2 linked regions of the Homo sapiens genome follow. The protein of the gene in region 1 purifies or fractionates together with the protein of each later gene. This does not show direct contact. Each region holds a gene or a part of one and is shown on either strand. Other genes may lie near its edges.

Region 1 (5,162 bases):
GTTGTCTAGGCTAGCCTTGAACTCGGCTCAAGCAGTCTGCCCACCTTGGCCTCCCAAAGTGCTAGGATTTCAGGTGTGAGCCACAGTGCCTGGCCTGAAGCAATTGTTTAAAGTCCAAAGTCCTAAAGGAAAACTACTTGGAGAGGGGCATGGGGGCTTGTGCTTGTAGTTCTAGCTACTTGGGAGGCTGAGGGAGGAGGATCATTTGAGCCCAGGCCCAGGAGTTCAAGTCTATCCTGGGGAACACAGAGAGACCCTTGTCTCTTGGGAAAGAAAGCAAGCAAGCTGCTTGGAACAGTTCACATAGAAGTGAGTTGACTATACATACTAAGGTGCATGTGTGCAGTATAGAGTTGTACAGAATGAGGAAGGCCACTAAGAACTGACATGTATGATTTCTTAGATATTACGTTAAGTGAAACAAGCAAGTTGTCAAGCACACAAGACAAAGGAAGGCCAAGGCCTGACTGATTTAGCCAGTAAGAATAGAATGAGCCACTTGTAGATTTAGAAGAGTAGCCAAGGATGGCAGCTCCTCGGGTCTTTGTTTCACATGGCAAAAAGGATAATGTGGAAACAAATGGAGCTGGATGGCTGCAATGCAAGTCACAGGTACACTGTTGTGGAGAAGCCAGTTCTAGACCACCGCTAAACAGTCTTCTAGTCTGCAGTTATACCCTGAGAGCAGTACAATAGAAAACCTCATCAGAACCTAGGGGATACGAAGCTGTCTTGGCCGGGTGCCATGCCAGTAATCCCAGCACTTTGGGAAGCCAAGGTGGACAGATCACCTGAGGTCAGGAGTTTGAGACCAGCCTGGCCAACATGGCAAAACCCCCGTCTCTACTAAAAATACAAAAATTAGCCAGGCATGGTGGCAGCTGCCTGTAATCCAGGCTACTCTGGAGGCCTAGGCATAAGAATCACTTGAACCCGGAAGACAAAAGTTGCTTTGAGCCAAGATCGTGCTACTGCACTCCAGCCTGGCGGACAGGGCGAGACTCTGTCTCCAAAAAAAATATAAAAAAGAAGAAGTTGTCTCGTGACAGCCTCCCAGGGGAGATAGGGAGGTGAGTGGGAGATGGCTGGGCGGCAGCTCTGCCCACACCTGCCATCTCCTCCTTTTTCAGGAGGATCACAAAGCATTTTGCCAGGACAGATCAGCTGTGGTTCAGGCCTTGGCCTGTGTGGCCTATATGGATATAGGCAAGGTCACCAGGGCAGCATGGTGGAGCTGTTCACCTAAACAATGTATATTGTAGTTTACATTTTATGCAAGAAAGTGTGTGTATGTATATATATTTATATATTTGTTAATTTTTTGGTACGGGAGGAATAAACCAGAAAGAATGAAAGTGGAAACTATGGGGTTCTTTGGGAATAGGGTGGAGGTTGAGGATGAGAGGACTTCTGATTGTAACCTTTTATTGACTTTATAATACAGTGTAACTTTTTTGACTTTTGAACAATGTAAATATTTTATGCAAACTTTAAATTGTAATTAAGTGGAAATAAACAATGTAACTACATGTGAAATTGGTAACAGAACACAGAGGAAAGAATTAATTTAAGTACTTGTTGCTTGAGCCCAGCCTGGGTAGCGTAGCAAGACCCCCATCTCTATAAAAAATTAAAAAATTAGCTGGGTATGGTGGCACACACCTGTAGTCCTAGTTACTCAGGAGGCTGAGGCAGGAGGATTGCTTGAGCCCAGGAGTTCAAGGCTGAAGTAGCTATGATCCTGCCAGTGCACTCCAACCTGGGCAACAGAGCAAAACCCTGTCTCCAAAAAAAAAAAAAAAAACAAATCTGTAACCTGAACACAGCATTCTGACTGTGCATCCTTAGTGGGATTTAAAGTATGACAAAATAAAGGACTAAAGTGGTAACATCAAGTTTACTTAGTAGGTTCATTGTTAATAGTAATCTGTTATTATAATTTTGGAACTAGTTTATGTGTATTGTAGGATAAAACAAATTTATTCATGTTATTAAGGACTAAAATTTTCAATATAGGAAGAGTTTTAAATTATTAATTCATTAATTTTTTCTTATACAGGGTCTTGCTTTGTCATCCAGGCTGGAGTGCAGTGCTGCTGTCACAGCTCACTGCAGCCTCAATTGCCTGGGCTCAAGTGATCCTCCCACTTCAGCCTCCCACGTAACTGGGACCCAGCCACACGCCATCATGCCTGGCTAATTTTAAAGTTTTTTTGTAGAGATTAGCTCTCCCTGTGTTGCCCAGGCTGGTCTCGAACTCCTAGGCTCAAGTGATCTTCTCGCCTTGGCCTCCCAAAGTGCTGGGATTACAGACGTGAGCCACTGTGCCTGGCCTAAGAGAGAAAATATTAACAATTAAAAACAAAAGGTTAGTCCTCACGTAGGAAATAGCAAAACAAAAACAAAGGAAAACCCCTATTATGTTTTGGAAATAACAGCAAATTCATAATAAAGGGTCTCAGAAACAGTGACAACTCAGTAGTAGTGAGCATATTTAGTGCCCACATCTTGGATACTAAATACCATTATCTACTGGCAACTAGGGCTGTTTAGTGAAATTGCTGATTTCAGGGCTATGGCAGGGGAAGTACAAGGTGAGCCTAGAACAATTTGTGCCAGATAGCACACAAATTCTCAAAGATCAATGAGGTCACATCAAAAGGACATAGGAGAGCTGGTCATGGTAGCATGTGCCTATAGTCCCAGATACTCAGGAGGCTGAGGCAGGATCCCTTGAGCCCAGGAGTTGGAGGCTGCATTGACCTATGATTGCACCACAATAAAATAGGAAGGAAGGGAAGGAGGGAGATAGGAACTGGCTTGAAAGGACTCTGGCTGACTGAATTAGAGCATTAAAAAGAATAATGACAGTAATAGATTATAGTGTATAAAAAAAAGGATTCCTGGGACCATAATGACATAAAAAATAAAAGAGGGGTTCATTTTTAAAAATCAGAATACCAGCTAATTAAAGTAGAATGATAGAGTTAGAAACCACTAATTTTCAACCTGTAATGTAATAATTTATTCAAGCAAGGTGCATCAATGAATGCAAAAATCATTAGATGGAATAATTTTGGGAAACAAGATTCACGTGGTCTCAATTTATCATCCCATAGATACTTATTAATTCTGTAACAAAACTGCACATCTATGATGAAGTGGTCTGGTGGTTTCCACCTTCACCCAGTGATTAAGCTCAGCATTACCACTGGCAGACGACCTGAGTTGCCATGCCGTGTTGTGCAGTAAGATGTATACATTATCACCTATTCATGCCCAAAATGTTTGACATGAATTAAATCTTGAGGAAATATGCAAATCCAGAATGTGAGACATTTTAAAAGGAACTGCCTCGATGCTTAAAAAAAAAAAGTCACTGGTGACAGTGTTTCTTATGTGAGAATGGTGTTATGGATAGGTACGAAAACGTACTTTTTAGAATATGCTTCTGAAACATTTAGCAGGGATGTGCTGTGATATCTGCAAATCGCTTTCAAATGGCATAGCAAAAATTGTGTGTGAGTATACACAGAGAGGGAGAGGAGGGAAACGTGGCACATGTTCATGATTGATCAGTCTACATGAAGGATATATAGAGGATCATTCTTTCAGTTTTTCTGTAGATTTGGAATTTTTTGAAATAAATAAAACATTTGAGGCAAAAATGTCACTGGTACATGGTACCAATGGCTCATTTTTAGTCACCTTACTCTTAAATGTGCTTCGCTCTCCCAGTTTTCTGAGAATTTATTTCAAAAGGCTAGAAATTGTGCATTATTTCAGTTTTTACTCGTTTCCTCTTTCTTCCCTTCAAAGTATTTTAGGATTAAATTGTGTAGACTGGGCACAGTGGCTCACACCTGTAGTTTCAGCAGTTTTGGAGGCTGAGGCAGACAGATTGCTTGAGCCCAGCAGTTTGAGACCAGCTGGGCAACATGGCGAAACCTCGCCTCCACAAAAAAACAGAGAAACTGGCTGGGCGCAGTGGCTCATGCCTGTAGTCCCAGCACTTTGGGAGGCTGAGGCGGGTGGATCACTTGAGGCCAGGAGTTTGAGACCAGCCTAGCCAACATGGTAAAACTCTGTCTCTATTAAAAATACAAAAATTAGCTGGGCGTGGTGGCACATGCCTGTAGTCTCAGCTACCCAGGAGGCTGAGACACGAGAATTGCCTAAACCCGGAAGGTAGACGTTGCAGTGAGCAGACATTGCACCACTGCACTCCAGCCTGGGCGACAGAATGAGACTCTGTCTCAAAAAAAAAAAAAAAAAAAAAAAAAAAAAAGGAGAAATTACCCAGGCATGGTGGCATACACCTATAGTTTCAGCTACTAGGGAGGTTGAGGTGGGAGGATCACTTGAGCCCAGGATGTCACGGCTGCAGTGAGCTTTGATAGTGCCACTGCACTCCAGCCTGGGCAACAGAGTTGAGACCCGGTCTTCAAAGAAAAAAAGAGATTAAATTGTGGTTTATTTTGCCAATTATACCATGCATATGAAAAAAACGTACTTTCGCTTTTAGAATTTTTGTCACAGAACTCTTAAATAAAGTCAGTTGACATATCTTTTTTTTTTTTTTTTTTTTTTTTTGAGACAGAGTCTTTCTCTGTCACCCAGACTGGAGTGCAGTGGTGCGATCTCAGCTCACTGCAGCCTCTGCCTCCCGGGTTCCAGCGATTCTCCTGCCTCAGGCGCACACCACCATGCCCGGGGAATTTATGTATTTTTAGTAGAGATGGGGTTTCACCATGTTGGTCAGGCTGGTCTCGAACTCCTGACCTCAGGTGATCCGCCCACCTCGGCCTCCCAAAGTGTTGGGATTACAGGCGTGAGCCACTGCGCCTGGCCTTTTTTTTTTTTCTTTTTTTTTCTTTTTTTTTTGAGACAGGGTCTCACTGTGTTGCCCAGGCTGGAGTGCAATGGCGTTAATATCGCTCATTACCTCAAACTTCTGGGCTCAAGCAATCCTTCCTCCTCAGCTCCTCAAGTAACTGGGACTATAGGTGTACACCACCAAGCTTGGCTAATTTTTCATTTTTCATAGAGATAGGGTCTCCCAATGTTACCCAAGCTGGTCTGAAACTCTTAAGCTCAAGCGATCTTCTTGCCTTGGCCTCCGAAAGTGCTGGGATTATAGGCGTGAGCCACTGTGCCCCGCC
Region 2 (3,500 bases), on another chromosome or scaffold:
TGTGAGTCACTATGCCTGGCCTATTTCTTGAGGTGTTTTTTCTCCCCCAGTTTTAGACGTTGTCTATACTTTCTACTATGAACATTGAGGATTTGGTGTTGTAGACCTTATTCCAACACTCATAATTTCTACTCCCGTTCATTTGCTAGGATGTGTTTAATTTTATAAAAAGGGAAGGAATCAATAAATAAGTTACTCTGTACTCATTCACCTGTTGAGTCTTGGACTTTAGAAATACTGATGTATCTCATCCTTTTAAAAAGATTATGTGGAATTTGTTTCCCAATTTATTTAACCAATCACCTATTGATGGCCTTTTGGGTTATATCTCATTTTTCAGTGTGTGTCTTAAATCTGTGTATCTCAAAACAATATATAGTATTGCATACTTTTTTTTTCCTTTTTTTTTTTTTTTGAGACAGCAACTTGCTGTGTGTTTCCCTGGCTGGAGTGTAGTGGTACAATCATAGCTCACTGAAGCCTTGACCTCCTGGTCTCAAGCATTCCATCTGCTTCAGCCTCCCAACCAGCTAGGAGTACAGGTGCATGCCACCGTGCCCCACTAAATTTGTTGTTCTTCTTGTAGAGACAGGGTCTCACTCTGTTGACTAGACTGGTCTTCAACTCCTGGGCTCAAGTGAACCTTCCACCTTAGCCTCCCAAAGTGCTGAGATTACAGGTGTGAGCCCCTGTACTCAGCCAGTATTGCATACTTTAAGCTATATATGTATATTTGGCATATTCTTCTGCAACTTGTTATTCTTTTTTTTTTATTTTATTTTTTTTTTTGAGACAAGGTCCCACTCTGTCGCACAGGCTGGAGTGCAGTGGCGTGATCTCGGCTCACTGCAACCTCCACCTCCCCAGGCTCAAGCAGTTCTCCTGCCGCAGCCTCTCAACTGCTGACCTCAACTGATCTGCCCACCTCGGCCTCCCAAAGTGCTGAGATTACAGGCTTGAGCCACCACACCCAGCCTGCAACTTGTTATTCTGAGTCAACATTATTTCCGAAATCCTCTATATCGTATGATACATGTAGATCCAGTTGATTCATGCTCGTTGATTATTAGATTCCATTATATGACTACACTGAAATTTTCTATCCAAACTCTCGTTGATAAACATTTAGGCTGCTTTTTAATGTTTTCCTTTAATACATTCCTTCTCTGGATAGTCATCTGTGAGTCATCTTGTATGCAGGTTTGAGTTTCTCTAGAGAATGTATCTATAATTGAAACAAATTATGAATTGATGCTTCAGAGTATCACAACCATCAGCTTTACCAGATATGGTCAAATTGCTCTCCAGAATGATTGGACCAGTTTACTGTCCCACCACATTCTCAACATCATTTGCATTGTCAGACTTTAAAACGTTTGTCAATTACGTAGATTGAAAATGGTATGTACTTATTGTTTCAATTAACATTTCTCTGATTACTGGTAAAGTTCATCATCTTTTCTTACACTTACTGGCTTCTTAGATTTTCTCCTGTTTTCTGTTGGATTACGTACTTTTTTTGTCCTATTGATTTATTGGACTTATTCATACTTTTTGTTTTTTTTAATAGAGACAAGGTTTCACTTTGTTGTCCAGTCTGGTATCAAACTCCTGGCCTTAAGCAATCCTCCAGCATCGGCCTCCCAAAGAGCTGGGATTACAGGTGTGAACCACAGCAACCAGCCAGAATTCTTTTATATTCTGGATATTGATCCTTTGTCAGAAATACACATTGCATATATCATTTCCCAGTCTTTGGCAAGGCTTTTAGTTTATTTATGGTATCTTTGAGGTACTGAAAGTTAAATTTTAATATGATTGAATTTGTTAATTTTTTTGAAATCTTTAAAGGCTTCCTTTTTATGTGCTTTCCTGTTTCTGGATTACAAAGAATTCTGTACTTGTAAAATTTTTAAAATATTGATTTTAATACTTAGATCTTTATTCCATCAACAAGTTTTTCCTTTGTTGTATGATATGAGGATCCAGTATTTTTTTTTTTTTTCAATAGAGACAGGGTCTTTCTATATTGGCCAGGCTGGTCTTGAACTCCTGGCCTCAAGCCATCCTCCTGCCTCAGTCTCCCAAAGTGCTTGGATTACAGGCATGAGACACTGTGCCTGGCTAAGATTGAGTATTTTTTCTTCAGTTGTCCCAGTACTATTAATAGTCTGTCCTTTTCCCAATGAGTTGTAATGCCAAATTCCCCATACCCTTGCAATACCAAGTTCCAGTATTGGAACTTGGGTCCAATTTCTGGGCACACTATTCTGTTCCAGTGGTGGGTTTGTTTGTTTTTTTTCCCATTGCTGTTGAAATATTACAGTGACTTTAAGAAGTCTTAAAATCTGTCAACTTCCATACACCTTGTTTTTCTTCTTCAAAATCATTTTGGCTACTCTATGAGACAGTTGGGAAATGTGAATCAGGAAAATTTGAATAGGAACTAGATATTAGATGCTACTGTGGCATTATTGTTAATTTTGTTAGGTGTCAAAATGGCATGGTTATGTAAGAATGTCTGTATTTTAGAGATGCTTACTTAAGTACGTTGGAGTGAAATGACATGAAGTCTGGGGTTTTAAAATATTTTAGGCAACAAAAAGGAGAGGTTGGATGAATGAAGTAAGTGTGGCAAAATATTGGTCACTGTTGAATCTGGGTGATGGAGTAGAGGGCTTTATGAAATTACTCTATTTTTTATTATGTGGGAAAATGTTAAGAATTTTAAAATCAACTGTTCTTAGCTCCTTCCTTTTTTGAGACGGAGTCTCCCTCTGTCGCCAGGCTGGAGTGCAATGGCGCGATCTCGGCTCACTGCAACCCCCGCCTCCCAGGTTCAAGCAGTTCTCCTGCCTCAGCCTCCCGAGTAGCTGGGATTACAGACACATGCCACCACACCCAGCTAATTTTTTGTATTTTTAGTAGAGACGGGGTTTCCATGTTGACCAGGATGGTCTCTATCTCCTGACCTCAAGTGATCTGCCTGCCTTGGCCTCCCAAAGTGCTGGGATTACAGGTGTGAGCCACCGCACCTGGCCTCTTTTATTTTTGAATGGTACTCTTTGTGTATATGCACCACATTTTCTTTATTCATTCATTTGTTGACAGACGCATAGATTGCCTCCAAATCTTGGCTATTCTGAATAGTGCTGCAATAAACATGGGAGTTCAGATATCTCTTGGACATACAGATTCTGTTGGCATATATACATAGCAATGGAATTGCTAGATCAAATGATAGTTCTATTTTTAGTTTTTTGAGGAACCTCCAAACTGTCCTCCATAGTGGTTGTACTAATTTACATTCCCACCAACAATGTACCTAGGGTTCCCTTTTCTCCACATCCCTCACCAGGATTCATCCTTATCTTTTGGATAAAAGCCATTTAAACTTAGGTGAGATGCTCTCTCATTGTAGGTTTTTTCTTTTTTTTTTTTTTTTTTTTTTTTGAGACGGAGTCTTGCTCTGTCACCCAGGCTGGAGTGCAGTGGCGCAA

The links. The genes of interacting proteins can lie anywhere in the genome.
Region 2: the proteins of CCNB2 (region 1) and CDK7 fractionate together in Homo sapiens (co-fractionation; one large-scale study listed by BioGRID). This does not show direct contact.

What each region holds. Positions count from the first base shown.
Region 1 is NC_000015.10:59,117,674-59,122,835, forward strand, and holds part of CCNB2 (G2/mitotic-specific cyclin-B2), read left to right. Parts: intron 1-5,162. UniProt on the Homo sapiens protein: Essential for the control of the cell cycle at the G2/M (mitosis) transition.
Region 2 is NC_000005.10:69,237,886-69,241,385, forward strand, and holds part of CDK7 (cyclin-dependent kinase 7), read left to right. Parts: intron 1-3,500. UniProt on the Homo sapiens protein: Serine/threonine kinase involved in cell cycle control and in RNA polymerase II-mediated RNA transcription. Cyclin-dependent kinases (CDKs) are activated by the binding to a cyclin and mediate the progression through the cell cycle.